4 linked regions of the Homo sapiens genome follow. The protein of the gene in region 4 interacts with the protein of the main gene of each other region in a biochemical or structural test. Each region holds a gene or a part of one and is shown on either strand. Other genes may lie near its edges. The genes, in order: SMAD3, NLK, MITF and LEF1.

The links.
Region 1: the proteins of LEF1 (region 4) and SMAD3 form a complex in vitro, tested with the Homo sapiens proteins (2 studies listed by BioGRID, with this or other methods).
Region 2: of the proteins of LEF1 (region 4) and NLK, one has a biochemical effect on the other in vitro, tested with the Homo sapiens proteins (4 studies listed by BioGRID).
Region 3: the proteins of LEF1 (region 4) and MITF form a complex in vitro, tested with the Homo sapiens proteins (2 studies listed by BioGRID).

The regions. Positions count from the first base shown.
Region 1 is NC_000015.10:67,159,602-67,166,626, reverse strand, and holds part of SMAD3 (mothers against decapentaplegic homolog 3), read right to left. Parts: intron 1,733-7,025; coding exon 1,539-1,732; intron 1,375-1,538; coding exon 1,243-1,374; intron 467-1,242; exon of another isoform or gene 434-466; intron 97-433; exon of another isoform or gene 1-96. UniProt on the Homo sapiens protein: Receptor-regulated SMAD (R-SMAD) that is an intracellular signal transducer and transcriptional modulator activated by TGF-beta (transforming growth factor) and activin type 1 receptor kinases.
Region 2 is NC_000017.11:28,038,421-28,045,699, reverse strand, and holds the start of NLK (serine/threonine-protein kinase NLK), read right to left. Parts: upstream 3,024-7,279; 5' UTR 2,827-3,023; coding exon 2,369-2,826; intron 2,363-2,368; exon of another isoform or gene 1-2,362. UniProt on the Homo sapiens protein: Serine/threonine-protein kinase that regulates a number of transcription factors with key roles in cell fate determination. Positive effector of the non-canonical Wnt signaling pathway, acting downstream of WNT5A, MAP3K7/TAK1 and HIPK2.
Region 3 is NC_000003.12:69,742,445-69,749,469, reverse strand, and holds part of MITF (microphthalmia-associated transcription factor), read right to left. Parts: intron 1-7,025. UniProt on the Homo sapiens protein: Transcription factor that acts as a master regulator of melanocyte survival and differentiation as well as melanosome biogenesis.
Region 4 is NC_000004.12:108,047,046-108,053,955, forward strand, and holds the end of LEF1 (lymphoid enhancer-binding factor 1), read right to left. Parts: intron 1,707-6,910; coding exon of another isoform or gene 1,627-1,706; 3' UTR 503-1,626; downstream 1-502. UniProt on the Homo sapiens protein: Transcription factor that binds DNA in a sequence-specific manner. Participates in the Wnt signaling pathway. Activates transcription of target genes in the presence of CTNNB1 and EP300.

The sequences.
Region 1 (7,025 bases), on a different chromosome or scaffold from region 4:
CTGTTGTCCTCGCCCCTGTCCACCTCTGACTCCCGCTTGGATCATAACTGCCTTTGCTCACGCAGGACCGGATCAACTCCCAAGTCTGAAATGTGTACTCCTAGAGCCTCTGCCAGGCTAACTTATCCTGGTCCTTCAAGGTGAGGGTTAAGCCCCACCCCCTCCAGGGAGGCGTCCAGACTTGCCTCCGCCTCACCCCTTTCTGTCCTCTGAAGATCTGCAGGCTCAGACCCACCCTTTGGTCCCTACTATCTTCTTCTGTGCAGACCAGGTGTTATTATTTGTTGTCTCTAAGGGACGTGTCCTCACTCAGCAGTTAGGTTGCAAGTTCAATGACGGCAAAGACAGTGTGATCTATTTCTCTGAAACCTCCCCCAGACCCTGACTGAAGCCCTCCAAGATTTGCTCTTTGAACAGGGAGTAGTTGACTTACCCGCGGGACGCCAGGGCTACCCGCAAAGGATCTGAGAAGGTTGGACAGTGGGTCTCCTCCTTAACACTCTGACCCAAGCACACAGGCCTGTAGCCAATCTCAGCCCAGTAAACTAACCCAGGATGAACGTCACGTCCAAATTAGAATGCTCTAAGAGGAACGCAGCAGGATTACTGCCCCAGCAAGCAAAAGTGACTAGCCCAAGTGCTGCCAAGCACAGCTTTCCTGGAGTCTGAAAGTGCTGGTGATTCACACGTTATTTGCATGTAAATGAGGGGCTTCTAAAAACATTTGCAGTCTTTGACGGCAAAGCCCATTTCTCCCTGCAGAGTGAAAACTCAAAGTCACTTCAATTCCCACCCAGGTTGGAGCCCCTCACCGAGGCCTGATGCCCAGGCGAATTTACAGAGCCAGCTCTCCGCACTTGCTGCCTGGCCCTCAGCTCACTCCCCGCCTCTGCAGACCCCCAGTCTATTGGGACTGAACACCAGTCCGGGCCTCAAGGGCGGTGAGAGAAACAGTGTTGCTATTTCCGCTTCCAAAATAAATGACTGCACCAAGGCCGGGCGGAAGGGTCACGCTGCTCCTCTATGCCAAGAAAAGCATCACTAGTGAGGGGGGAGCTGAGGTCATGGGTCCTCTCCCAACAGGGATGCGGTTCTGAGTCAGGGGCCCTCAGGCCAGAGCTGTGCGCAAAGAGGGGGTGAGCGGGGGACGGCCAGGGGGCAGAGATTGGGGCCACAGGACTGATGTCGGGGCTGACCGCTGCCCCTGCCTCCCAGGCCAGCCTGTGCCGCCCACGTGCCTACCTGGAATATTGCTCTGGGGCTCGATGCCTGCGGGGAAGTTAGTGTTTTCGGGGATGGAATGGCTGTAGTCGTCCAGTGGGGGGAACTCGGCCGGGATCTCTGTGTGGCGTGGCACCAACACAGGAGGTAGAACTGTCCGGGGGAGACAGAGCAGAGGTGGCTCAGTGTCGATGCCAGACCAGCACCAAAGTCCCCGCACCCCCAAGTGCACCGCAGACCCTCGGGGGGATGGGGAGCCGGGGAGAGGTGATGACCCCTGGCACCTGCTGTCCCCACAGGCAGGCCAGGCAGCATACCTGGTGTCTCTACTCTCTGGTAGTGGTAGGGATTCACGCAGACCTCGTCCTTCTTCATATTGAAGGCGAACTCACACAGCTCCATGGCCCGTAGCTCGTGGTGGCTGTGCAGGTCTGGCCATCGCCACAGGCGGCAGTAGATGACATGAGGGAGCCCCTTCCGATGGGACACCTGCAACCGGCCATCCAGGGACCTGCCAGGACGGGGAGGGGCAGAAAGAGAGGGAAATGTGGATTGTGCTTGCTTTCTGCAGAGTCCGGCCTCCTACTTTCAGACACTTGGAAAGCTCTCTCTCCCCTCATTTCTCCCAGATCCAGAGGTCCAGGAGATCAGAGCACTGCTAGCTGAGAGTGCTGGGAGGGATCTCAGGAGAAGACAACAAAGGCCCCGTGAGGACTCCCAGCTGGCAGAGCGGGCCTCACCCACCAGTCCCCGGTGGGTTCCCCAACTTTGTACTGCTCTTCAGGGAGTGGCATTCCATGGGAAGGGCCCGCACTTCAGTCACTTCAGTTGTGCTTGGAAAAGGTCCAGGAGCCACTCATCGGCTTCCTACTCAGCCCAGAGGTGTGGAGAGGGGACAGGGCTGGGGAAGACAATGAGAGTTCTTTAGGCACAGATATGAGGACTACAGTGATCCAAAGAAGAGTGACAAAGTACAAAGGCTGTCTCCCCTCATTCACTCAGGTCTTCCCTTGCACATTAGAAAGTCAGGGGAAAAAAAGAAAACTTGCCTTTCCTCCTCTTTTTTTTTTTTTTTTTTTTTTTTTTTTTCTGAGACGGAGTCTCGCTCTGTTGCCCAGGCTGGAGTGTAGTGGCGCCATCTCGGCTCACTGCAAGCTCTGCCTCCCGGGTTCATGCCATTCTCCCGCCTCAGCCTCCTGAGTAGCTGGGACCACAGGCACCCGCCACTACGCCCAGCTAATTTTGTTTTTGTATTTTTAGTAGAGACGTGGTTTCACTGTGTGAGCCAGGATGGTCTCGATCTCCTAACCTCGTGATCTGCCCGCCTCAGCCTCCCAAAGTGCTGGGATTTCAGGCGTGAACCACCGTGCCTGGCCCCTCCTTTCTTTTTTAGTTATTTGTGGTGAGCAGGGAGTGAAAGACGGAAATTAAAGGGATTTTTTTTTTTTTTTTTTTTTTTTTACTTTTGATACAGGGTGTTGCTCTGTCACTCAGGCTGGAGTGCAGTGGCATGATCTCGGCTCACTGCAACCTCCGCCTCCCAGGCTCAAGTGATCCTCCCAGCTCAGCTTCCCAAGTAGCTGGGACTGCAGGGGCACACTACTGTGCCTACTTACAATTGGCCAGTGCCATGACCCTGTGTGAACCATGTCTTCTATGGTGATTTGGCCAAGCAGCTATGACCCGGTGCCCTTACCTCTCAAGCCAGGCCAAAGTGTGGTCCCTGACCAGCAGCAGAGGTTCAGGGAAGTTTGTTAAAAATGTACATTCTCAGCGCCTACCCCAACCTACTAAATCAGAATCTTTCCCTTTGTGAAATCCCCAGGTGATCTGGATGATGAGAGTCTGGGTGGCTTACAGGAAAGGACTGGGGAGCTTGGGGCGGCAAAAGCATTGTCAGCTACAGGCAAGGCTGGGAGGCAGAAGGCTTCTGGAGGGACGTAAAACTTCAGATAGTGTCTGGTATTAGACAGGTGAGGAGGTGCCACTAAAATGGAGTCCCTTATTTAACACATATTTAATGAGCACCTATTATGTGTGACACTAAGGATACAGTGGTAAGGAAAGAGACTTCACTATGAGAAAAGGCCAGCAAAGTGGTCCCTGTCTGCAGGGACCCTCCATTCCACTGGGCAAGACCGGCATTAATCAAATAATCACCAAAACCACTTTGGGAGGCCGAGGCGGGTGGATCGCTTGAGGCCAGGAGTTCAAAACCAGCCTGGCCAACATGGTGAAACCCTGTCTCTACTAAAAGTACAAAAATCAGCCAGGCATGGTGGCGGGCGCCTGTAATCCCAGCTACTCAGGAGGCTGAGGCAGGAGAATCACTTGAACCTGGGAGGGGGAGGTTGCAGTGAGCCAAGATTGTGCCACTGCACTCCAGCCTGGGCGACAGAGCAAGACTCCGTTTCAAATCATCATCATCATCATCATCATCATCATCATCATCATCATCACAGAAACCTACAATTACACACAATGAAAGTGTCCTGAACGAAAATAACAAGGAACCCCAAGAGTGTATGACCATGGCACCCCACTTTGCTGAAGGACTGGACAGGGCATCTCAGAGGAGGTGATGGTTGACCTGAAGGCCTAAAGGGTAAGTAAGAACTAACCAGGCAAAGGGGTGCGGGAGAAGGGCAGTACAAGCAGAGGGAAAGGCACACACAAAGGCCCTGTGGAAAGTGGAAAACATGGTGAGGTCGGAAGAACAGAATGAAGGCCAGAAGGACTGGAGAGGGGATCATGAGAGAGAGCTGGCTTGAGACGAGGCCGGGGAGGCAGGCAGGGGTACTCTGCAGGGCCCCAAAGGCCATGATAAAGGCTTCTCCTGTTTTCTAAAAGCAGTATGTAGCCTCTGAGATGTGTAAGTGGGCTGTGCATACGTGTGAAAGAGACAGGCCCTGTGGAACTCTGGCTACGTGTGACCAACAGATTGCGGGTAGCAGGGATAGAAGTGGGGAGCAGATGAGATGGATGCTCATGAGTCACAGGTACCCTATTAAGAGGCAGGACTGCTTTTTCTTCAAGGAGGCCCATCCTAGGACCCTGCCAGTCAGTGCCATAATTTTTCTAATAGCTGGCAGGGCTGGCAGTGAGACATTTGCAAGCTTTCCCTCTGTGCCTTCTTATGACCGAGGGCACCCATTTGCCTGAATACAGAGAATTCATGGGCACTCTGTGAAGGAAGGGCTGGCCAGATGCCACCAACAGCACCAACCAAAGAGAGAAACAGAGGGATCCAATCACACTCTCCAAGCCACTGGCCTGGGAAGGGGAAAGGACAGACAAAGGTCATAGCTGGGCTTGGTCACAGGAACTGACCTGGAGCTGCTGACTAAGGGCATCTTGAAGGATGTAATTACCTTCCTCCCTTGGGGCCCCAGAACAAGGAAGCCCTACAGCTGAAAAACAGTAATTACCAGGCAGATCGAGAAGACAGCCTGGGACTCGTCCCTGAGGTATAAAAGGAGGACTGGCGGATGTGGAGCCATAAGACCTGGGGTAAAGGAGGGTTCTACTCTCCTAGCTGGGAGACACTGGGCAGCTCATGAGCTTCCTAGGACACTCAGTTTTCTCATCTATAAAATGGGGTATTCTGCCCCCCGACCTCCTGAAGCTTGGTTTCCATTTGAAAGTGCTTCATAAACACCCACAAATTAGCGTTATTATTCTCTATCACAGCAGATACTCCCCAAACCCAGCCCTGGATAAGTAGGGTGAGCTGGAGGTTGAACAGGAGTAAAAGGGAGAGTGGGAAGTGGTGAGTGGGAATAGAGAATTATTCAGCTGTTCTCCTTCTCCTGCAAAGCCACTGGGTGCCCACAGATTAGGGAAGTGGCCGTATTTGCTCTTCGGTGTTTGACAAAACTCCCAAAAAAGGGCCAGCTGGACATCATAGCCTCCTCTGCAAGAGAAGGCCTTGGAGAAAAGCTCATGCCAGCAGCGGGGGAGAATGGGGCTGTGGAGGTAAGCTCCATCTAGGTGATAGAAGTGGGTGGCCCTCTTGCCTTAGTAGTAATATTAATCATACATGAATCACTTGGATATTAATTAAACTTTTAAAAACAAGGGAGCTACAATAATCAAGGCAGTATGGTAATGGCACAAGGACTGACAAACGGATCAATGGAACCTAACAGAGTCCAGAAATAGTTACATATATATGGACGACTGGCTTCAACAAAGGTCCAAAGACAATTTAGTGGAGCAAGGACAGTCTTCAACAAATGGTGATGTAACAACTGGATATGTAAAAAAGATAATCTTCAAACTACACATTGTAACCCTATACAAAAACAAACTGAAGTGAAACTTAAACTCTAAAATGTCTAGAAGAAAACAGGAGAAAATCTTTGTGACTTTTTGGGATAGACAATGATTTCTCAGATACCACACCAAAAAGCACTTAATAATAATAAAAAAAAAATCAGACCGCATCAAGATTTAAGCCTCTGGTCTTTGAAAGACACTGTTAAAGGAATAAAAAGGCAAGCACTAACTAAGAGAAAATATTTGCAAAGCGTATATTTGATAATAGACCTGTTTCTAGAACTCTGAAAACTCAATATTAACAATTCAATCTTCTTTTTTTTTTTTTTTTTTTTTTTTTTTTTTTTTTTTTTTTTTGAGATGGAGTCTCGCTCTGTCGCCCAGGCTGGAGTGCAGTGGCACAACCTTGGCTTACTGCAAGCTCCACCTCCTGGGGTCACGCCATTCTCCTGCCTCAGCCTCCCGAGCAACTGGGACTACAGGCGCCTGGCACCGCGCCCGGCTAATTTTTCGTATTTTTAGTAGAGACGGGGTTTCATGTGTTAACCAGGATGGTCTCGAACTCCTGACCTCGTGATCCGCCTGCCTCGGCCTCCCAAAGTACTGGGATTACAGGCGTGAGCCACTGCGCCCAGCCAACAATTCAATCTTTTAAAAAAGAGATACATGATTTGAACAGACACTACCCAGAAAGATATGAAGACAACAAGCATATGAAAAGATGCTTGACAATGTTGATCATTAGAGAAGCACAAATTAAAACTACAATGAGATAGGACTACATACTTATTAGAATGGCTACAATTAAAAAGCCTGATCATGCCATGTATTGGCAAGGATGTGGAACAACTGGAACTCCCTTCCACTGCTGGTGCAAATGTAAAATGGTACAACTATTTTGGAAAACAGCTTGGAAGTTCCTTTCTAAAATATTTTATTTTGGGGGATACACAGTAGCTATACATATTTATAGGGTACTTGCGATATTTTGATACAAGCATACAATGTGTAATGATCAAATCTGGGTAATTGGGATATTCATCCCTCAAACATTTGGAAGTTTCTTAAAAAGCTAAAAAACCATAAGCCTACCATATGATCCACCATTCCACTTCAAAGTATTTACCCAAGAGAAATAAAAGCCTATGTCCAAAGACTTGTGCATGAATGTAATAGCCCCAAATTGAAAACTACTCCACATGTATTAACAGATGAATGAGCCATAACATATCCATACAAAGAAATACAACTCAGTAACAAAAAAGGATCAACTACTGATACATGCAACGCTATGAATGAATCTAAATTAATGATGCTGCGTGAAAGAAGCCAGGCATGATTCTGTTCGTGTAAAATTATAAGGTAATTTAAACTAAAGTAAAAGGCACACTAATCTTAATCTAGTGACAGAAAGCAGGGATCAGTCATTGCCTGGGGACAGAGGGAGTTACAGGGAGGGAGTAGGGATTGGAGGGAGCAATTACCAAGGTGCACTTGGAAACTTTTTTGGGGGTAAAGGTTATGTA
Region 2 (7,279 bases), on a different chromosome or scaffold from region 4:
AAATTTCAAATATAATAAGGAATTCAGACAGCAAGTCATTGACATGTAAATATAAAAATAGAAAAGCATTTGCATACTAAAACATACACCTGGAACTCTTTCCTTTTTCATACCAAATTGTATTTCACCTGTAACAGCTGATGAAAACACTCAATGCAGTTAACTAGAAAAACTTGGTTAAAAAAACAAAGACCCGAATCACGTGATAACACAGGAGGACGGCCATCCACAAGCCAAGCAGAGGGGCCTCAAAAGAAACCAAACCTGTACCTTGATATTGGATTTCTAGCCTCCAGAACTGTGAGAAATAATTTTCTGTTGTTTAAGCCAAAACAAAGAAGGACCTGACTAGATCAATTAACCAAGCAGCAAAGATGCCAAAGCACTGTGCTAGGCGCTGAGGAGAAAAGGATTACTACAGTAGACAATCCTTACCCTCAAGGGGCTTACGAATGTAGTCAGTGACACAAGACAAACCTGAAGTAAGATGGTGCACAGAGGTGTACTTTAAGTACATGAGACAAACTCCATAGGTGGTAGAGCAGTCAATCAATTAAAAACCTCTAGAATGGCTTCAAACCAAATATATGTGGGCTTTCAGATATCAAAGATTCATAGTACCCACTAGCAGAACGTTTGCTGTGTGAGATGTTTCAGCACTCCAGTTCTTTATTGCCCCCTTCCTTAAAAAAATAAATAAATAAAATAAAAACTGCTACAAGTCACATCACTTTTTGATAGAAATGTAAGTGAAAAATGCCTTTTGAATATATTCAAGAATGCTGCAACCCATTTCCCTTTCAGTATCCCTAGTTTTTAGCATTGTATGTAAGGCACTAAAAAAGAAAGTAAGCATCCAGATCTAAGAAGATCCAAACAAGTGCTAAAAGTTATTAGTAAATCAATGACAAAATTTAAACCAAGGAACAACCGTTTTCCTGTCTGTTCCATCCCCCAACCAAAGCTTGGAAATCCTCAAGAGTTAGGCAAGGATAAGTTCACAGTTAAATCTCTGAGATAGTCTGTGGAAGGGAAGAGAGGAAGGCAGGAACAGGCAGGTCCCTGAGCAGAATGACCAAGGCACCATTACCAGCTATACTCTTTTCCACCTTGAATCCCACACACCTTGAAGAAAGGACCACGCTGCAGCAGAAACTTCCTTGGGGACTAGCTGAGAAAACACTGGACTCTACTAGTTTTTTTAAAAAATGGATGAGATCACTTAGCAGCCTAGATTATCAAATCTGAAATATAAATAAGATGGCCAGTTAAAATGCATAAACAATGCACCCATCAATTTTAGCCTCAAAAACAATGACGAAAGGAGATATTTACCGGGCTAGTTCCAAAGAGTTCATTTTCCTGTGGTAATGGGCGCTTTTCTCGGGAGTAACAATTTTTGAATGCACTGAAAATATCAATTCATCTATCCAAAGTGGAATCATTAGTCCTTGGGAGAAAACCCAGTTCATTCTAGTTTTGATAGGAACAAACATATTTTATTATAAACTACTAATCTTTCTAAGGTTAGACCAAATAGACCAAAATGTTATATTTAAGAAGCCCTTAGGCTTTTACAAATATCCTAGCACTAGCAAAGGTAGGGTCATTTGTTAAAAAAGTATTATTTCCTACTACAGCAACTGACCAACAGATAACAGCAACTTAAGAGGCACTAAATGACACTAAAACATTACACTGAATGTGGGCCACTGCATAGCTAGTCTACTAACCTCATTTGTGGTACTCATGTGTGATGCTATATTTAATGCATTCTTATCAAAAGGCTACAGCTACATACTTCTCAACTGTAGCTTTATGGTTTAAAATAAACCACTCAAGCAATGATCTTAACTGGTTCAACTATGAATCCTATCTTTCTTCTGGAGATCAAGATCACAAAATAAGTGAAAAGACAGAAAGGACAGGAAAGTAGTTATGCAAAGTATATCCTAATGACAAGAGTATTATAAAGGAATTCAGTCTGGATCAGGTGCTAACACTTAATGCCACAGGGCCACTGAATCAAACACACGAGATGACCAAGGTCTTCGTAGGAATTAGTATTGCATACATTCATCTACTGATCCTGTGTTCAGTGGCTTGCTTAGGTTCTAATAGAAAAGTTTGGTAGACAGCACACTTATGTGTGTTGCTCATGAGAAGGCGCTCCACCAAAACTTGCCATGAGCCTAGACAGCCAATGCATTAGGCCTCTTTACCACATAAGTGAGGGTGGCTTCCTACAGTTGGGTTGAGAAGCTTGCTGCACCTTGGTCAACATGGAGACAACCATTAGAGATGGACTCATCCAATGACAACCAACAGAAGAAACCATGAGAGGTTGTGTTTTTCTTTGGATACTCACCAGACAACACCAAAGGCTCCATATCCAATAGGTCTATCCGGCTCAATATCCAGCTGCTGCTGTGGATGATGCGAGTGCTGATGATGGTGCGCCTTAACTGTAGCAGCTGCGGCAGCCTGTACCTGAGCTGGGGCTGCTGCAGCTGGTCCAGGAGCCTGCCCCGGTGCCGGTGATGGGAAATATGGCTGTTGTTGCCCAGGGTTTAACATGGCTGCAGCTGCAGCCGCTGCTGCGGCTGCCGCAGCTGCCGAAGAGGTGTGCTGCTGTACAGGGTGTACAGCGGCAGCCGACCCCGGATGAAGATGGTGTTGAGGGTGGTGGTGGTGGTGCAGGTGAGGAGGAGGGAGGTGTGGAAGGTGGTGGTGATGGTGGTGGTGGTGACCTGCTGCTGCTGCAGATGTACCGCCATTGTAAGCCGCCATCATTTTTGCGTTGGCTCTTGCGCCACAAAGAGACATTCAAAATAAATGCCCTTTGATTGGAAAGCAAACTGGGTCAAGCTGTCATTTGGCCATTTAAAAATGAAGAAAAACCACTCACTCCACCTCAAAAAACATAGAGCTTTATGTCTTCATCAGTCAATCCAAACAAGTTAGAGGATCTTGGTGTTTAATTTTGGGGTGAGCGTGTGTGGAAGGGTGTGGGTTGCCAAAAGGAAAAAAAAGGGAAAAAAGAAAAGAAAAAGGAAAAAAGGACCCCTTCCCCCCAGGATTCCTGCCACAAGTGGGTACTAAAACTCCATTCTTAATTTGGGGGAGGTTCCAACTTTGAATGTGGGAATAAAGGCCAAACCTCCCGACCCCCTGAACTCCACACACGAAAAGGATCAGGTAACACACCACCCTTGGAATCTTGAAAGAGGGTTGACTCATCTACCCCTTCCATTCCCACATCCTTTTCTAAACACCTACCACCTCCTCAAAAACAGGATTAAAAAAAATTCCCACCACCCTAAATGGAGAAGATGGGGGGAAATTTTCTGGGAAACCAGCTTCCAGCTTCCCCCCCCCCGAACTCTCAGGCCTTCCTACATCTCCCCCTACTCCTAGTCAGGTTGACCTGATTGGGGAGGGGGGGCGGGGGTTCCAAACTTTCCTGGGCAGAATAAGCCAGGGAAGGAGGCTGGAGTGAGGAGAGGAGGCGACAGCAGGACAGAGAGGAGAAAGAGAGCCGGGGCAAAAGTGAAGGGAAGGAGGTGCAGGGAGGAATGAAAGATGTGGGCAGCGCTCGGACGCCCAGACGGAGGGAACCGCCCCGGGAGAAGGTTAGGGTCCCGGGGCCAAAGAACAGGAGCCCCGGGAGGCGGGCGGGGTACGGTCGGAAGCGGGCTGACTCCTGCCCCCGCCGCCGGCTGCTTCTGCTGAGGAGGGTTGGGGGGGAGAGCGGGTGGGTCCCCCGCGCAACGGCCCCGCAGGGCTCAAGGCTGCTCCGTCTCCCCCCCTCCCCCCCACCCGGCTTCCGTCCCCGCGGCCGCTTTCTCCTCAGCCGCCGCGGCCGCCTTCTCCTCAGCCGCCGCCTCCTCAGCCGCCGGTTCCGCCGCGGCCGGACTCACCTCCCCTAGCAAAGCCGGATAGAGCGGAGCCAGCGTCGGACACGCGCAACCAGCCGCCGAGGCCCCGCCCCCGCCTTGCACGGACCGGCTGCCCTAGCCAATCCACGCCCACCTGTCCGCCACCGCCTCCAATCCTGGGCCAGGAGCTTCAGACAGGCGCACTGTTCGGCCAGTGGCAACAAGGTGTGGGTCTTCCGGGGAAATCCCGCCCCCGATCCGGGATGGGCAGATAGAAAGACCAATCAAAGGCAGAGTTTGGCTTGACCGACAAGGCTTAAAGCCAATTAAAAAGCAAAGATCTTTGTGACATTTTTCTTTCGCCTCTCTCCTCTTTTCTTCTTCTTCTTTTATTATTTATTTTTTTTTTTTTGGCAGGAGCAGGAAGCTGCGTGGTAATCCCGCCTGCAAAAGCTGGAAGAGAGGGGCGGAACGAAAGAACCAATCATGAGCCAGAGACAAAGAACAGAGTAACCAATCCTTGGGTTGAAAATGAAGTGGGATGGAACCTGGGCCAAATAGACACTTGAAAAAACAAATGGAAAAAAAAGGTTGATGTAAGTCCCACCCTTTAGATCTCCTATAGGACAGGATTGTGGAGAATTTGCTGTCATATCGAGACAACCTCTTCAAGGGGCGGGGCTTAGGGAAGGGGTGGGGTCTTAAAGTGGGCGGGACCTAGACGAAGAAGGCGGAGTCCAAATCATCACTGGTCCACTGATCCGAGATGTCCAATATCCCACTTAAGATGTAAAGTGTGGGGTAAAAAATAGGGGAAGAAAAAGGGAATGTTGAGCTTCAGAAACTCAAGGTCCAAGGTCACTCAACAAGAAGACAAAGGAAACTCAAAAGACTGACAGAAACTCAGTAGACTGACAGTTCGTAGTCTACGGCCGGTCCTCTCCATAGTTAATCCTGATCTTGGCAAAAAGAGGAGGAATCTCTGGCATTCAGAACTCCACTGTCGACAAATGATAAAGCTGTTGGTGCAAATTAAAACAAAAAAAGTAAACTTGACCACAAAAATAATAATTTTCCTCTATCTTTCTTTCTTAACAGGGTCACATTCTGTCACCCAGGCTAGACTGCAGTGGCACAGTCCTAGCTCACTGCAACCTCCAACTCCCGGCTCAAGCAATCTTCCCGCCTCAGCTTCCCGAGTAGCTGGGATTACAGATGTGCATCACCATGCCCGGCTGATTCTTTAATTTTTTAGAAACAGGGTCTTAATATGTTGCCCAGGTTGGTCTCAAATTCCTAGGCTCAAGAGATCCTCCCACCTCCCACCTTGGCCTCCCAAAGTGCTGAGATTACAGGCGTGAGCCACCGCCTCCAGCCTCTCCCATATTTTCTATCAAGTAAGTTTCTGTCATTGAAATCTTACTAAAATAGCATCTTTCCATCACTTCATTTATCTGAATTTACCCTTCCTTTAAAATGTGAAATAATAAGCTTACAGAACCTTATCCCTACTGAAACTGTATAGTTTACTCAAAAACTTGGAAGTCATCTTCGATCCCTCCTTTGCCTGTCCACATTGTCCCTTCCAATCTATCAGTCATCAAGTCTTCTTTTTTTTTTTTTTTTTTTTGAGACATGGTCTCTGTTGCCCAGGCTGGAGTGCAGTGGCATGATTACAGCCCACTGCAGCCTCCACCTCTTGGGCTCAGATGATCCTCCCACCTCAGCCTCCCAAGTAGGTGGGACTACAGGCACATGCCACCACACCTGGCTAATTTTTGTATTTTTTTGTAGAGATGGGGTTTTGCCATGTTGCCCAGGCTGAATCATCAAGTCTTAAACAATTTTAAATCCCCCTCACTTCTGCTACTTCCCAGTCACACAGCATTTACCCAAATTTACACCACTAACATCTTTAACCATTTCCCTGCCTGCAAGCTAGCTCTCCTTTGATCCATCCCCCTCTGGGGGCATAGTAAATTTTTAAAAATACAAATCTGAGACCAGGGGCAGTGGCTCACACCTGTAATCCCAGCACTTGGTGAGGCCAAGGTACGTGGATCCCTTGAGTTCAGAAGATCAGTCTGGGCAATGTGGCAAAACCCCGTGTCTACAAAAAATACAAAAATTAGTGGTACACATGTCTCTAGACCCAGCTACTGAAGAGGCTGAGGTGGGAGGATAGCTTGAGCCAGGGAGGTAGATGCTGTAGTGAGCTGAGATCCCACCAGTGCACTCCAGCCTGGGTGACAGTGAGATCCTGTCAAAAAAAAAAAAAGGCTGGCTGTACCCCTAAATAGCCTGGCATGATCTGGTTCCTGCCTACCTACCTCAAGGGTCTTATCTCTCCCTTCCACTCCACACTTCAGACATTCTGAACTTCCTGCAGCTCCTTGAATGCTTTCAAGCCTTCATGTATATCTTCAGCCCAAAACATTTCCCGCTCATCCTTCACTGCTCTAATTCATCCCTCAGGTCTTCGTGTAAATTTTACTTTTTTTCCTGGAAAGTTCTAACTCTGTTCTAGAGTATACGTTTCTGTTGTATATCTCCATGACACTGCCTCCCTCATATCGATATTTTAAGTGCTTGTTGAGTTTGACCGGGGACAGAGAGCTTGTCTGTCTCACTCAATGTTGTATGCCCAGTTCCTTAGGACAGTGCCTGAAAAAAAAGAAGACACTTGCTACAGATTTGCCTGAATTACTGAGTGCAGAAGTGGGTACAAACCCAAGCTCTGCCATTTACTTACTCTATAGTTTAGGCAACTTAACTAACCTTTCTCAATCTCAGTTGCCTCAACTGAAATAATACATGACTCATGAGGTCTATATGAGGGTTAAATGAGGTGATGTATTTAAACGTGCTTGGCAAATAGTGAAAATGCAATATAAATTCTCTTCAACACTCACCCTCATGTAATATTTGAGATGTTTCCAATTTTCCAATGCACAGCACTCTCCTCCAAAGTGTAGTTTCCTAAAAGCTTCTTAGATGTTCAGCAAATTATCTGGTTTCACCTCAGACCTACTGAATAAGAATTGGAGGAGGAGAGGAGGAATCTGTTTAACAAGCTCTCCAGGTCATTCTTACAAACGCTAGAGCTTAAGAAGCACAGGCCTAGAGTAAAGGAGCTTAGTCTTTGTAAACTTTCTTTTTCAGCGCTTAGTATAGTACTATAATAATACATAGAAAGTGCTTGATACATGTGAAATAAATAAATTAATCTAATCCACGAGAAAACAATTGTACATTAAGAGTTATTTATTCCTTCCACAAACATGTATTAAGCACCAATTATATCTAGGCATGGTGCTAACTTCAACTGTGGGGGAGAGGAGATAGATGTACAGATGCTTCTGGACTCATGATGAGTTTGTGTCCCTTCTTTTTTTCTTTTT
Region 3 (7,025 bases), on a different chromosome or scaffold from region 4:
GTTCTTATTGGCTGAGGTGCCAGCATCCTAAATTTAGATGGTGCAACTATGCAGGCTCACCAATACAGCAGAGCAAAACTAACACTGAAATAATACCTTTCCACCTTTCGCTGAAAAAATTCAAATGCTAAAAACAAAACAAAACAATGACAAATATATACCTAGTCCTTTTGATGGAAGGGAATGTTACAATTTGACCAATGACATATCTGTGTGTTGGTTCATGAACTCAGTTTTAGAGCACCATCTCTACGAATTTAGGACACACTGCAGGCAAGAGGTACAGTGTGGCTACATCTCAATGAGGTTCTCTAGTAGCCTTCACCAGGATTGAGCTAGGTCCTGAGTTAAACAAGGAAATCATCTTTAGGATTTCCATGAGCATTTCCTTTCACCAAATTTCAAATCTCCAACTGTAAAAAATAAAATGTATGTTTTTGAAAAACATGCTTCCTAGAATCAGTTAGTATTTAGGAATATTTTATGGTAAAGGTACCAAAGTAAATATAGCATTCCTGTCTGTCATTTCGTAATTTCATATATAACCACAGCCACCAGGCTAAGTGAAACCTCTCTGCCTCAAGTCTTCTTTCCACTGAGGCAAGTCAACCTTCCCAGAAGGAAACCTATTCTACAAATACAAGCTATGCTTTCTCCCAACAGTGGGGACAACCACTTTTCCAATGATGCCCTTAATCACATGGGAAAACTGATGAATGTGTGTGAATGATTCAGCAAGTTACCCCACTTTGGAGAAGAGGCAAGGGTGGGGAGGGTGAAGACCACAGATGCCTTCCTGAAATTGCTCAATGAGGCACAATTTCTTATATGACAGGATTCTACCAGTGCCCTCTATAGGGCATGCACTTAGACTTAAAATATTTGCTGTCACACAACCCAGTATTTTTCGTTGTGAAAGTTATCACTCTGGCCGGGCATGGTGGCTCATGCCTGTAATCCTTGCACTTTGGGAGGCCAAGGCAGGTGGATCACATGAGGTCAAGGGTTCGAGACCAGCCTAGCCAACATGGCGAAACCCCACCTCTACTAAAAATACAAAAAATTAGTCAAGCATGGTGGAACACATCTGTAATTCCAGCTACTTGGGAGGCTGAGGCAGGACTACTGCTTGAACCTGGGCACGGAGGTTGCAGTGAGCCAAGATCATGCCACTGCACTCCAGCCTGGGCAAAAGAGTGAGTCTCCACCTCAAAAGAAAAAGAAAGAAAGAAAATTATCACTCTGTGGGTACTTGAATCAAAGAACACAGCTACTAAAATCCAAATGCTTTGAAGATTTTTTTAAAGATGTCAAATTAAATGCATGCCACTTCCTGTGGATGTCAAAGTTGGTGAACACTGGAGGTGGTATGTGGGAGGAGAGCTTCTTCTTTTTTGTTTCTGCACCAACACTGACATTTTCACAACAGAGTGGACAGGAAGCATGATCTCAGGACAGAAACACAGGACTAGGAGTCAGGAGTTCTACACTGGTTATTTGTTCGTGGTAGGCGTGTATGTTTTGTGAAATCAATCTCAGGCTTTCCTTTTTAATCCTCAATTACTTAGGCCTCTCCTTAACACCAAAAAAGTAATTAAAAATCCAGCCCCAAAAACTATGGTCAGACATTAATTATCTCAGGACAACAACAGTCAGGAGAACAAGGGATGACATCAAGTAGGATGATCCTAGAGGAAAGAAAGGATAACAAAACTAACAAGACCCATCTCCTCTTTTAGTCCAGGGTTAGGTTTATAAAGACAAGCATGAATCTCTGACTCACTCAACATTAGGAAAACATTTAAGACTGAGTTATAAACACTTATAACAAAGATTAATGTCTGTGCTTCTTTTTCCACTATTCATATGTTAACTTCAGTCCTATGGGTAACCCTGAACACCTACTAAGCCTCAAGCCTAATATTAGCTGCTTTACATACATTACCTTTTATCTTCACAGAAGCCTTGCAAGATGGCAACTGTCCCGTTTTACAGAAGAGAGAATTAGAGTTCAGAAAGGTTGGATAACTTGACCAAAGTCACAGAGCCAGTGAGTGGTAGTGTCTGGATTTGTGCCTTTATGTCAGATATTCAGTCTTGCCTGAAAATCACTTCTTCCAACAGGTCATTCCTGATCATACAACCGAATAAAAAGCCCCCTTCTTTCATAGGCCCATTCTACCAATAATGCTCCATTTAATTTCCATAGCAGTTAGTAAAACTCATCTTGCTCATGTATTTGGTTCATTGTTAACTGTGCGCCACCTCCAAGATGTATGCACCATGCTAGCAGGAACCCATCTGCTTCTCCACTGGACTCCCTATGGCCAGCACAGAGACTGACACTCAGCACCCAGTCCTTGAGAAGTCCCCAGAAAGGTCAGCCATTAAAGATAAAAGCTTCATCACTCTGAATCCCAGGACAGGGGTCTCAGGTGAACACTCCAAAGGTCTACTTCTCTACTCTTCACAGCATGCATCCAAAGCCACAGGAGGGAAAGACGAAGCGAAGAAATAAGAAAGCCACATTGTAGAAATGGGCTAGAGAAATAAGCTTACCATTGAGAAGCCAAACCTGGTCCTCCTCCCAAGATCATTTGCAATAGAACGGGAGGTGCAGAAATTTCAACAGAGATCCCAGACCTCCCTGTGGGTCTTCTCGACCTCGTTTGTCTCTATAAAGATGCAGACTTATCCCTTGGTATAATTCCTATCCTCGGAGTACACAATGTTCACTAGACTCACAAAAACCTTCTTATAAACTGCAAATTTGCCTTTATAATATCAAAAGCTTGTGGTGGCTGCATTTAATATCTTTGACCTGTCTTCATGATTATTTTCTCCAAATAATGCATACTTGGAGTGTAGTCAAACATATTTTTATAATTTATTCCGATTAGACAAACCCTCAGCAAAGTACATTTTATACCTCACACACACAAACATACACACACACAAAAAAAATGAAACTCTCACTTATTGTCCTTGAAAGATGACAAAAAGAAAGTAGCCAAGGATTTTTTTTTCCTATTATTTATCCTAATACTGCCAATCCTGAAACAAAGCAGTTGGAGAGGGAAATTTAGTAACTTTGATTTGTCCCAAGATACATTTTTTTACACTGAGGTCCTATTCCTGACAGTAAGCACATGTGATCTGTTCTAAAAAAAGGATATTTTCCACTTCTTGCACAACTGGAGCAGATATAAACATCAGCCTGTGCAAACTGCACTGCAGAACTCAAAGGGAATTAAACATATATCAACTTAAGTAAAATCTGTAAATAGTAGTAATCGGGAAAAGGAAATCTCCAATAACAAACGAAACCAAGACTGAGAATCCCACTTTAATCAAGTGTTCCCTCTAATCATACCACAAAACGAATCTGCATAGTACGATTTGAACATCTGCAGGTTGAGGCACCTCAATCTTGTCTACTTTGTTTTGGATGCATGATTCTATATATGTTTTAGTTATTCTTAAGAGAAGGGTAAAAACTGCTACCATAGTAAAATTCTACTAGAAAAGGAGGAATTAATTTCATTTACTAACAGTGCTAGGTGCTATGTTAAACACATTTATACATTTTTGCTTAGTTTTAAAAGTTCTACCAACCCTAAGGGGGTGGGTTCTATTGATCTCATTTTACAGCTTAGAGAAATTGAGACTCCAAGAAGTTAAGTTTCTTGAACACAGATGTACTGGTTAAGTGGCAAAGCAGCGACCACAGACAGCACTTAAGCAGGGCTCCCTCTAAACCTGTCCACATGCATGCAGCCTCTCTGCCACCATGAGGTATCATCAGGTGCCTGGAGACCACAAGAAAGAGCTTAAAGAAAGGTTAGAAGTTTAAAAGGCAAACGGAAACCCTAAATGTCTACTTTAGGACCATGCCCTCCAAGATGTCTAACATTTTACTTAGTGTAGAGAAACACATTTGACTATTGTTTCACCTTTAAGGCCAAACTCAAACACCCCTATTTGTCCACAAAACTGCCTCCCCAGTTCCCCTTCCTCTGTTAAATGCCCCCAACTGCTGATGCCCACCCTGCCACAGGGACCACACTCTGCCTTGTATAATTAGCTGGACCCATGAGTTCTCTTTCCCTCACCACACAGGGAGGGCACAGTATGATGTATCTTTGAATTTTGCACAATCAACCAGGCATAGTACAGACTAGAGGACAAGAGCATGTAGCTACAGAAGCATCAGTTTAACTCCAGGCCCCACCAACTTGGCATACCTGAGTTTCCCTCTCTGTAGAATGAGAATAATAAACTATTACATACACCCAAGGTTGAATTAACAGCATTAATATAGAGTTAATATTCATAATAGTGCCTAGCACATAGGAAGCACTAGATAAGTCTTAACTGTTTTTAAAATTATAATTAATATCATTATTGTTTTTATTTATTATGATCACCTCATGCAGATTTCACAAAGATTAAATAGGTTTTACACACGTAAAAACACTTAGAATGGGGCTCACACATAGTACATACTCAATAAATGTGACCCATCATTATTAGTATTAATGTGCACATACTAGGACTCAATAAATATGTGTTGAACACGAATTTTTATGGATACACTAATGTCAAAATTGTTAGTTTTTTTAACTAGCATAAAAGAATTGTTATGATTAAATGAAAGATACAAAGTGTAAAATATTTATCTGAACACTTCATTAGAAGAAAAGCAAAAAGGAATTTACTAACATTCAAAGAACTGTGTTGCGTAACAACACTTGCCTTAGAGAAGACAACCACAGTCAAGCAAATGCAAAACACCTTCCAAAATGCCAGGTTCGCTGCTAGGTAATAAAGAAAATAGCAACAAGAACATCTGCTAACATTTACTGAGCATTTACTATGTGTCAGCACTGAGCACTTACTGTGTGTCAGGTGCCATGCTAATACTTTTCCCACAGTCAATGTAACACTTATATTCTTGAGACTACTGGAGGCAGGCCCCTATTTGCCAGATGAGGAAACTGAAATTAGACGTCACCCAGCCTGCCCAAGGTCACCCAGTTAGTTAGGGACAGACATCGATGGCAGAACAAGGCTCTTCATCTCTATGCTAGTGGTTCCCTCAGATTAGACAGACCAAAAAAAAAATCAAGAAAACTTTCAGAAATCAAAAAATGATTGACAGTTTTGTTTTGCCAAGAATGGATTATTATGTCATCAAAGAAAGGGCATTTTTTAATATGAAGACAGGAGAAAAACATCTCAGCATAACTCCAAGAAATGGCAGCGGCCTTACACCCAAATATATGTAGGTATGCGTGTGACGCAACAGTCTTTGTCTTTCTCATTTCACCCAAACCTTTAAAAGTTCACACACCTTTGTGAATCAGCATTTGGGGATCACTGCTGTATCCTGTCCTGCCATGATAAAGCTAATACTCACTTTCATTCCCATTTCTAATTTGCAGAAAATGTAATAACAGCTGTCTAAATAGTACTAAAGATTTAAGAAGAAATTGGAATTAAACTAAGCCAACTGTGAAGTCTGTCCAGGAAAAGGACATTAACAACTACAAAGCCATGTGGACTGAGTAAACCAAACAAAAGGACTATGAGCCTGAAAGATGCTCCTACGGTTTAAAATGTTTTTGGGTACAAAAGACCTGTAGAGACTTCCTCTGCTCCTAGGAGCTCATTCAACAGTTTCACATTTGTTTCCCTGCCATGACTATGCCTATGTGAATTCTGGGCTCACTCTAGATATTCAGCGCTTTTCCTCTGCCACCCACCATTCAGAACTCATTCCCAGGAGAACACAAGGTTTCTAAAACCTTGTCGGAGGAAACGGTGTGCAAACAATTCATTGGAACCTTTTCCCACAGCATGTGTCTTCCTATACACAGCCTTAACCACCAATATGACCAAAATGAGATTCACATAATCTAAATCCAGCAACTTCAGATTCCTAAAGGCAAGGATGTCTGGGTTAGAAATGAAACATGTCCTTCCTCATGAAAGACTTGAATATCTGAGGTTAGCCCCAATGAACAATATATGAATTCCTCTTTGGAGAAAGCCTAGTAGGTATCTATTTTAAAGGAAACACAATATTCATTGCAAAAACAAAAAACCAAATACCATACCTTGAGTGGGTTATGGTATTAAGGAAGAAAGCAACACATACTCAAACAAATATTTATTGTGTCACGCATTGTTCTAAGCCAGTGGTTCTGAAATGAGGGTACTTTGCCTACCACGGGATGTCTGACAATGTTCAGAGATGTTTTTGGTTGCCATAATTGATAGAGGCAGGAGTACTGGCCTCTAATAGATAGAGGCCAGGGATGCTGCTGGACATCCTGCAATGCATAGGACCCTCCACAACAAGGAATTATCTGGCCCAAAATATCAATAGCACTGAGGTTGAGAAACTTTGTTCTAGGCTCTGGGGACACAATAGTGAGCAAGGAACAAACAGAAAACCCTGTTCCCTTGGAGTTTGCAGTCTAGCATGGAGAAACACGTAATAAACATAACATATTGGAAAATTATACAGTAGATTATAATATAAGCCCTATGGGAAAAAAATATATAGCTGGACAAAGAAGACAGAGAATTTGGAGGAACAGCAATCGCAAATACTGTGGTCAAAAAAGGGCCACACTATCAGTGTGATGGGAATGATGTTTAAAGAATGAACTGTAAAGAAAATAACAAGAACAACATCTGCTAACATTTCCTGAGCACTTACTACGTGCCAGGCACCATGCTAATACTTTCCCACAGTCAACGTCACACTTAATGTTCTTAAGACTCCTGGAGGCAGGCACATACTGGTTGGTGGGGGAGTGAGCACTGGGTCTGTCTGGGCAAAGGATGATCAAGGCAAGTGCAATATAAAAATGCCCAGTGGTGGAAGGGCCTGGGGTATTCCAAAAACAGTGAGGAGACCAGCCTGGCTGTAGCAGAGGGAGGTAGGAGGCAGGCAACAAGAGATAAGGTCAGAGCTGACATCTTAAGAACCTTGAATTTTACTGGGAGAAATTAGG
Region 4 (6,910 bases):
GTAAAAATTATGAAATACAGCTCAGGACTTAGAAAATGTTGACTGGGGAGATGGGTGGGGGTGTTAAGACATACCTTCTCCACTGGGACCCCACAATGTGGAAGCCCAGTTTGAATACCAATGAGCTATGAAGAGAGGCGGTACCTGTGGACTTTCAATGAGCACGACAACCAGATGGTGGGAGCCCATGAGGATCTGTGTTCAGGAAAGGACTCACTCCCATCTGAATCCTGGCAACCCTCTTTTTTCCTTTGACCCTGTTTCATACCACCTGGAAAAGGAGGGAGAGGCCCAAGCCATACAAGTACTTTTGAGGACTGCATGTCTAGGAGACAGGGCAAGGTGCCCATTTACAGCCGGTTCTGGCCTGTCCCTGGAGAAGGCTGCACCAGCAGCACCCCTCTCACACAAACTGTTCCTCTCTACAAACCAGCTCTGCCCTGGCCTGTGGATTCAGTTCATTAGCAATTTTAGATTATCAGGAACTTCACTCTTAATAAAATGACAATTTTTAAAAATGTTTTATTACAAAGCTTCTTTTAAAAAAATGCTCAGCACATTAACTCAAACTGGAATGACAAACGTTAGGATGACAGTTTTGGGCAAAGGCTGTGCCTTGCTTTTTTAAAAAATGGGTACATCAATGCTCATTTTAACAACTGGCATAAAATCCCACTAATTGGCTAATAAAAACAGATACAAATACAGAACATTTAAAGTAATAACAATTCAAGTGCTGGGCTTTTTACAACAAGGGGGTGATAAGGAAAGAAATGAAAATTCACTGCAAACCAGTCTGCTGAACGCATCTGTTAAGGTTTACTGTTTAAAAAAAGAAAAGAAGAAAACAGAAGAAAAAATAAACTGAAATAGGGCTGCCAATTGCTACCAACAGAGTGGGTTTGGCTATTACATTTATTTAGCTCTACTGAACACCTTACAAGGGCGGAGAAGCCACTATGTGTTACAGGCAATTCACAGAGAAGCCACTTACCAGACAAGCTGTCTCAGAAAAAGAAGGCTTCTTTTTATGTCATTATTTCAAACTTTTCCAGAACTTTCAATTTTATTTAAAAGCTCATAGCTAGCAAAATATACAAGAAAATTAAAACTAAAAAGTGTAAATTAAAAAAATTCAAGTTTAAAAAAGCAAAAAAAAACGATCCTTTTGCACTGTTAAATAAAAGCTTTAGGAGAAAAGAAAAGAAAGAAAAATGAAGCAGAAACAAAGAGGGAACTCTTCCATGAACTCCTCCACTGGGGTGCTGATGGATGTGCTGGTTGCTGGCTCCAGTTGCGCATGACAGGCAAATGCAGCCAAGTTACCGTCCTTGCCGAAAGGTTACAGGTTTGGATGCAAGATGCTCTGGGAAGTGCACGCAGATATGAGGGGAGAAAAGCTGCTCAGCTGCCCCACAGCCTGCTAGCATTCTCATGTGCTTTTACATTTCCTTTTAAAAAACCTTTTTATGCTTTATTTTGGAACTTGGCTCTTGCAGTAGACGAAAGAGGGGTTGGCAGTGATTGTCTTTATGGATCAGCGTCTCTAGCAGTGACCTCAGGGTAAAATTGATGTCAGTGTTCCTTTGGGGTCGACTGGGCAGGCCGTGGAGACAGTCTGGGTTTTCAACAAGCTTCCATCTCCAGAAGAGGTCCTGGGGTCGCTGCCTTGGCTTTGCACGTTGGGAATGAGCTTCGTTTTCCACCTCAAGAAGGAACAAATGAAATGCTATTAATATGAATTTGCCGTAGGCCTTAAGATTATAACCTCTATTCCATACCATATATGTCTTACAACCTCTGCATTTAATTAATCCATTTTGTTAATTTGGGGATGGCTAAAATGAATTGCCCTATCAGTCAAAAATCCTGAGAGTACACTACAGAGTTAATATAGTGACATTTTTACTTTGGTTCCATGTATACGTATGCCCAGAGTTATGATGTGAAGTGTAGTGAATACTCTGGGTCATGGTAAACAGAACAAAAAAAAAGTTTGAAAAACACCAGTAGGAAACAGGCAAACATGAATAGGGAAGGCGGGCAACAGCCAGATCAGGGAAAGATGTGTCATTCTGCAGTGTTTGGTGTTTTTGGTCCACTGTGGGAAGCCACTGTATGATTCTACATAGGACAGACATAATCACATTACCCAACGCACTGCCAACTCCCGTGACGCTATGTGCTCTGTCCGCTCACACTCACAGCCCAGAGGATACAAACCGCTCCCTTTTTCCTTAAGATCTTACAATTTTCAAGATTTTTTTTTCCTTCCTAACATCAAGGATCTCTAATGATAGCCTCGGAAAGGACACTCAGCAAATATGTTAAAATAATGTTGCCAGATATTGGTGATAATGATTTTCAAATAAGAGAACTCCCACATCCTCAAAGCTTTAATGATCTGAGATTTTTTAAAAAGTGATTAAAAGTAAAATGTAACATTGTAACAAGATGAGACAAAGACAAAAGGAAAGTAAAAGCATGGCAAAGTTCCGTTCCTTCACTCCAGAGAGCACCTGCTTCCGCTGCTTTGAACTTGGGGAGGCTGCTTTCCTTTGGTGGCAGCGATGCTGGAAGCACCTTCTCAACCTGGGTCCCTTGACAGCCTCAGATGAATCCCAACACTTTGTGCTTGTGATTGTGCTATCCGTGTTACAAGCACAAGTTTCCTTTTAGAAACTCATTCTAAATAATGGTGGATTATCGTACACTTTCATTTCAATGGAAAAAGAAAGTAAAAGAGAAATAAAAGGAAACTTTGACATAGTTTAATAATGAATACAAAAGTCTAGATGGCAAGTTACAGTCCACAGAGTACTTTCCATGGAAGGATGGTGATCTATGGAATGGGAACTGCGAGGACACCTGCCCTTCAGGCTTTTGGAAAGAGAGGTTTGGCTCCTATATTTAAAGTGCTCACAAAGTGCACAGCACAGAGCAAGCCCTGCAAGCAGGTTAGCTAGTATTATTATTCCAATTATGCCCAATGCGGCCCCTAAAGATGATCAGAACTGCAAAGAAGCTATTTGTATACCTGGGTAGCTACTGAAAAAGCAAAAACCAACCAACCAACAAAAAACAAAATAGGAGGAAATCAGCCACAGAATGATTTCAACTGAGGAGGTCCTCCAATGACAATTTCATTTTCTATTCTCCTGGAAAATCAACCATTCCCTGTTTAACAGGAAAACACTACAGCATTGTGTTAATCACTATATTATCACTTGTACTCAGCTTAAGAGAGGAGGAGAAGGCACCCTTAGGTAAGGCAGTGAAGGGACAAGAAGACTGGTGGAGCCGGAAGTGCAGGGTGCTCTAGATTGGAGGTGTTAGCCCTGCTTGAGAATGGGGCCACAGCAGGGCCATGGAAGTTGTCTGTACCTCAGTACTTCACAGTTCGCTGTGCCAGGCCCACAGAGGTATGGATCTTGCACGCAGGAGGATCAAAGAGCTACGAAGGACCCTGCCTTTCTACGGAGAAAGAAACAGGGCTCTAGCAGAGCCTGGGGTGGGAGAGAGGGCACCCCACAGATTCCTATTTACATTATAATTTTGCATCACAGATTTTCAAAGGCTTGGTCCAGGTTGCTCTTCCTGGGAAGGTTTTCCTCTCAGTCTGACATGAAAACATTTAGTTTCCTGGTGAGGCCTGGCCTTGCAGTCCTAGGCTAGCGCCTGAGACAAGCACTGGGACTCAGAATAGACTCGCCATTGGCAGCCAGGAACGCCTGAGGGAGACAACCTGCCCTTCTGTTGGGCCATCCCACCACTGCCTGGCACAGCGAACTGTGAAGTACTGAGGTACAGACAACTTCCATGGCCCTGCTGTGGCCCCATTCTCAAGCAGGGCTAACACCTCCAATCTAGAGCACCCTGCACTTCCGGCTCCACCAGTCTTCTTGTCCCTTCACTGCCTTACCTAAGGGTGCCTTCTCCTCCTCTCTTAAGCTGAGTACAAGTGATAATATAGTGATTAACACAAACATGGGTGCCCAGAGATAGCCATTTACCTAAAGGATAGTATGTCACTTGCCAAGAAAGAGTCTATATCTCCTAATAAAGTCATTTCTTTCCACAGTCTCACATTTTCCCACCTGTTATTTCCTTATTCCATGGGGTCACCTTGCAAATTCTCCTGGAAAGTTGGCTTCAGAGAACCTCTGTACAGTTGCTTACCAAAAAGCAACTAATCCCTTTCAGGGACTAGTGCTTAAAAAAAAAAAAGAGCAAAGAAATTCCTTCACTATGAAATGAGGCAGTTTGTCCCTGGTGGCTCTTTTAAAATACAGGGATGTCAGGGGAGACCAAGTCTTACTTCCAAGTGGGAGAAACGGGGGCCTTGTAGTGTTGCTTTACAGATATAAAACAGGTCCAGTCCAGATTATTTTCAAGAAACCACAGGCATGAGGCTCCAGGGGCTGGAGCTTTCCCACATCTAAGGCTTCACTGGGGGGCTGCGGCTGAAGCTGGGCCAGGCCAGGCGAGCCCCGGCACAGCCCAACCCACCAGTGAAGTCTGCGCAATCAAAGCCAGCAATTACTGCTCTCCGGCTGCGGCTGGGCTTCAAAGGGAGTGAGGCAAGGCCCATCTTACATATGTTCAGACTTGGGCTCCCTCCACCAGGAGTCACCACGCATTTGTACTGGGGATGCAAAGGCGGCACAAGACCCCACCCCACCCCATATAACCGAACCCCCCTGATGCTCTCCTGGACCAAATTCCAATCTTGACAAAATATCCCATCAACCAAATGGAACCATGAACCCAAATGGGTAGAGTTCCTTACTAAAAGCCCAAGCAATAAAGGTGAATCTAAAGATTTCAAGAGTGGGCCTGTTTCTGGGAGGTCAACAGCACCGACCCTGGGCCAATAGGGCTTTACAGACCCTGACTCAGGAGTGAAGAAAGGGAAAGGGGGAAACTCCTTCTCTCTAAGCCCAAATAAATGTAAAATCCTACCAAAAGCAGAGCGCTTGGCCAGCTCATGTCCTGGGGGTTCCTCCCCAGGCTGTCCTCTGGAAGAAAGGGCCAAGGAGACAAGTCTATGGGTGAGCTCTGAGGTGGTGGAGTGGAGGGTCAGGAGCAGGCAAGGGCCAGCCCTGTCAGGGTGCCACTCAGGGCTCACTGGCCAGTCAGTTTAAGCTGTCCAGGCCAAGGCAAGGGCAGCAAAGCTGGTGTCCAGGAACAAAATGCACCCCTGCCCCATCATGTAATATCACTTCCTTATTCAGAATTGGTGAGGATACAAAAAAAGTGAGTTGGAATAAAAGACCCTTTCTTCGTCGTCCTCTTCCTTTTACGCCACTCTCAAATGCTACTAACAAGAGGCAGGAGCCTTAAACGATGTGCAATTTGAGGGGAGAATATTAGAGATTGGTTTTATGAGAGGTAAACAGATTCACAGATTTTAATTGCAAAAATGGAATTCCAGCATCACACCACACACCTCATGCCAATTGTCTCCATTTTTACACCTTGGGAAAAACTGACAAAAGCCTGTGATTTGAGGGTGTGAACTCTTCTGCTGCACAATGTCATGTGTGTATGAAGGAAGAGAGGTACAGACTTCTACAGCAGGAAGCAAGCGTGACAGAGCTAGTCTAATCCTGTTTTTTTAGCAGAGACTTAGGAATATGGTCATAAAATGACTGGCCCATGGTGACCCCTAGAGAGTCCCAGTGCTGGGCTGTTCCCCAGGCCTCCTGGCATCATAAAAGTGACAGTCTTGTTGACTTGAAGGTGGTCTTGTCTGCAAGAAGCTGGTGAGGGGGAAGGAACAAAAACACTGTCCACTACGCACTGATTTGCCAGGCACTGAGACATGGACTTTAGAATTTCACATTATCATCATTACAGTTTGCATCTTCCCACCCACTTACAGATAAGGACACTGAGGCTACCTGAAGTTCAGTAACTTGCCAAAGGTCACCCAACTAATAGGCAGCAGGATGAGCCTCTGAACTCTCAACATGTGTTCTCTCCACCATACCTTGGAACTAAATTATCATTCACTTTCTTCTCTCCTTCCTACCTTCCATCATTCTGTCTGTCCATCCCCAGGCAACAACCCCTGTATCCTGGTGGAGGCAGTCTACATCTGTAACAGTGCAGCCACCCCCAGGATATCACGCTCTGTTTGAAGAAAGATGATAAAGAGAAACAAACGCATAAGTTAACTTTGAAATTTAAGTCCCTAAGACTGGAAATATAACCTACAAAAGCCAGCTTCAGCTCCTTGACAGTAAACATTACCCAACATTTGAGAAAAAAGAAAAATGAAAATGTGTGGTTAGGAAGGTTAACACTGAGTTTTATTTCTGCAGCTGAATGACTCCTTAGTCCCAGCATTCAAGACTAGTTAGTTAATCCCCTAACCACAAAGCTCTAAAGCAAAAAGATTCCCAGAAGCTGGAGGTGGGAGGAAAGGGGTCATTGCCACTCCTGGATTCATGTTCTACCAAGGCAAGGCTTCCTCTCCTGTGGCTATTCAGAGTGAATTACCATCAGCTCAACCAGACTTTGGCAATGTCAAGATGACTTTGAGACAAGCCTGTGACCGTTAATGAATTACTCCAGGGGAATTTTTCTGTAGCTACTGGTTTCTCTTCCTGATCAGCCTAGCCCTCTGTGTTTGTCTCCTCTGTGAGGACATGTGTCCTATTGGTAGGCCAGACCTCCTGGTGCAGGTCATGACCGCTAGATCCTTCCTACCACGGGAAACATGGGAGAAATGGTCTTGAGCAAGTTTTGAAGGAGAGAGCCTCAAAAGCCCATTGTAGTTCTGTCAGCTGAAGTGCTTCCAGAGGGTAATAACTAGCTAGGTAGACCTCCCTCATCTACTCACCTCCAAACGCTATCCAATCCACATTTCTCTCAACAGACGTTCTCTCACACTAAAGATGTTAAG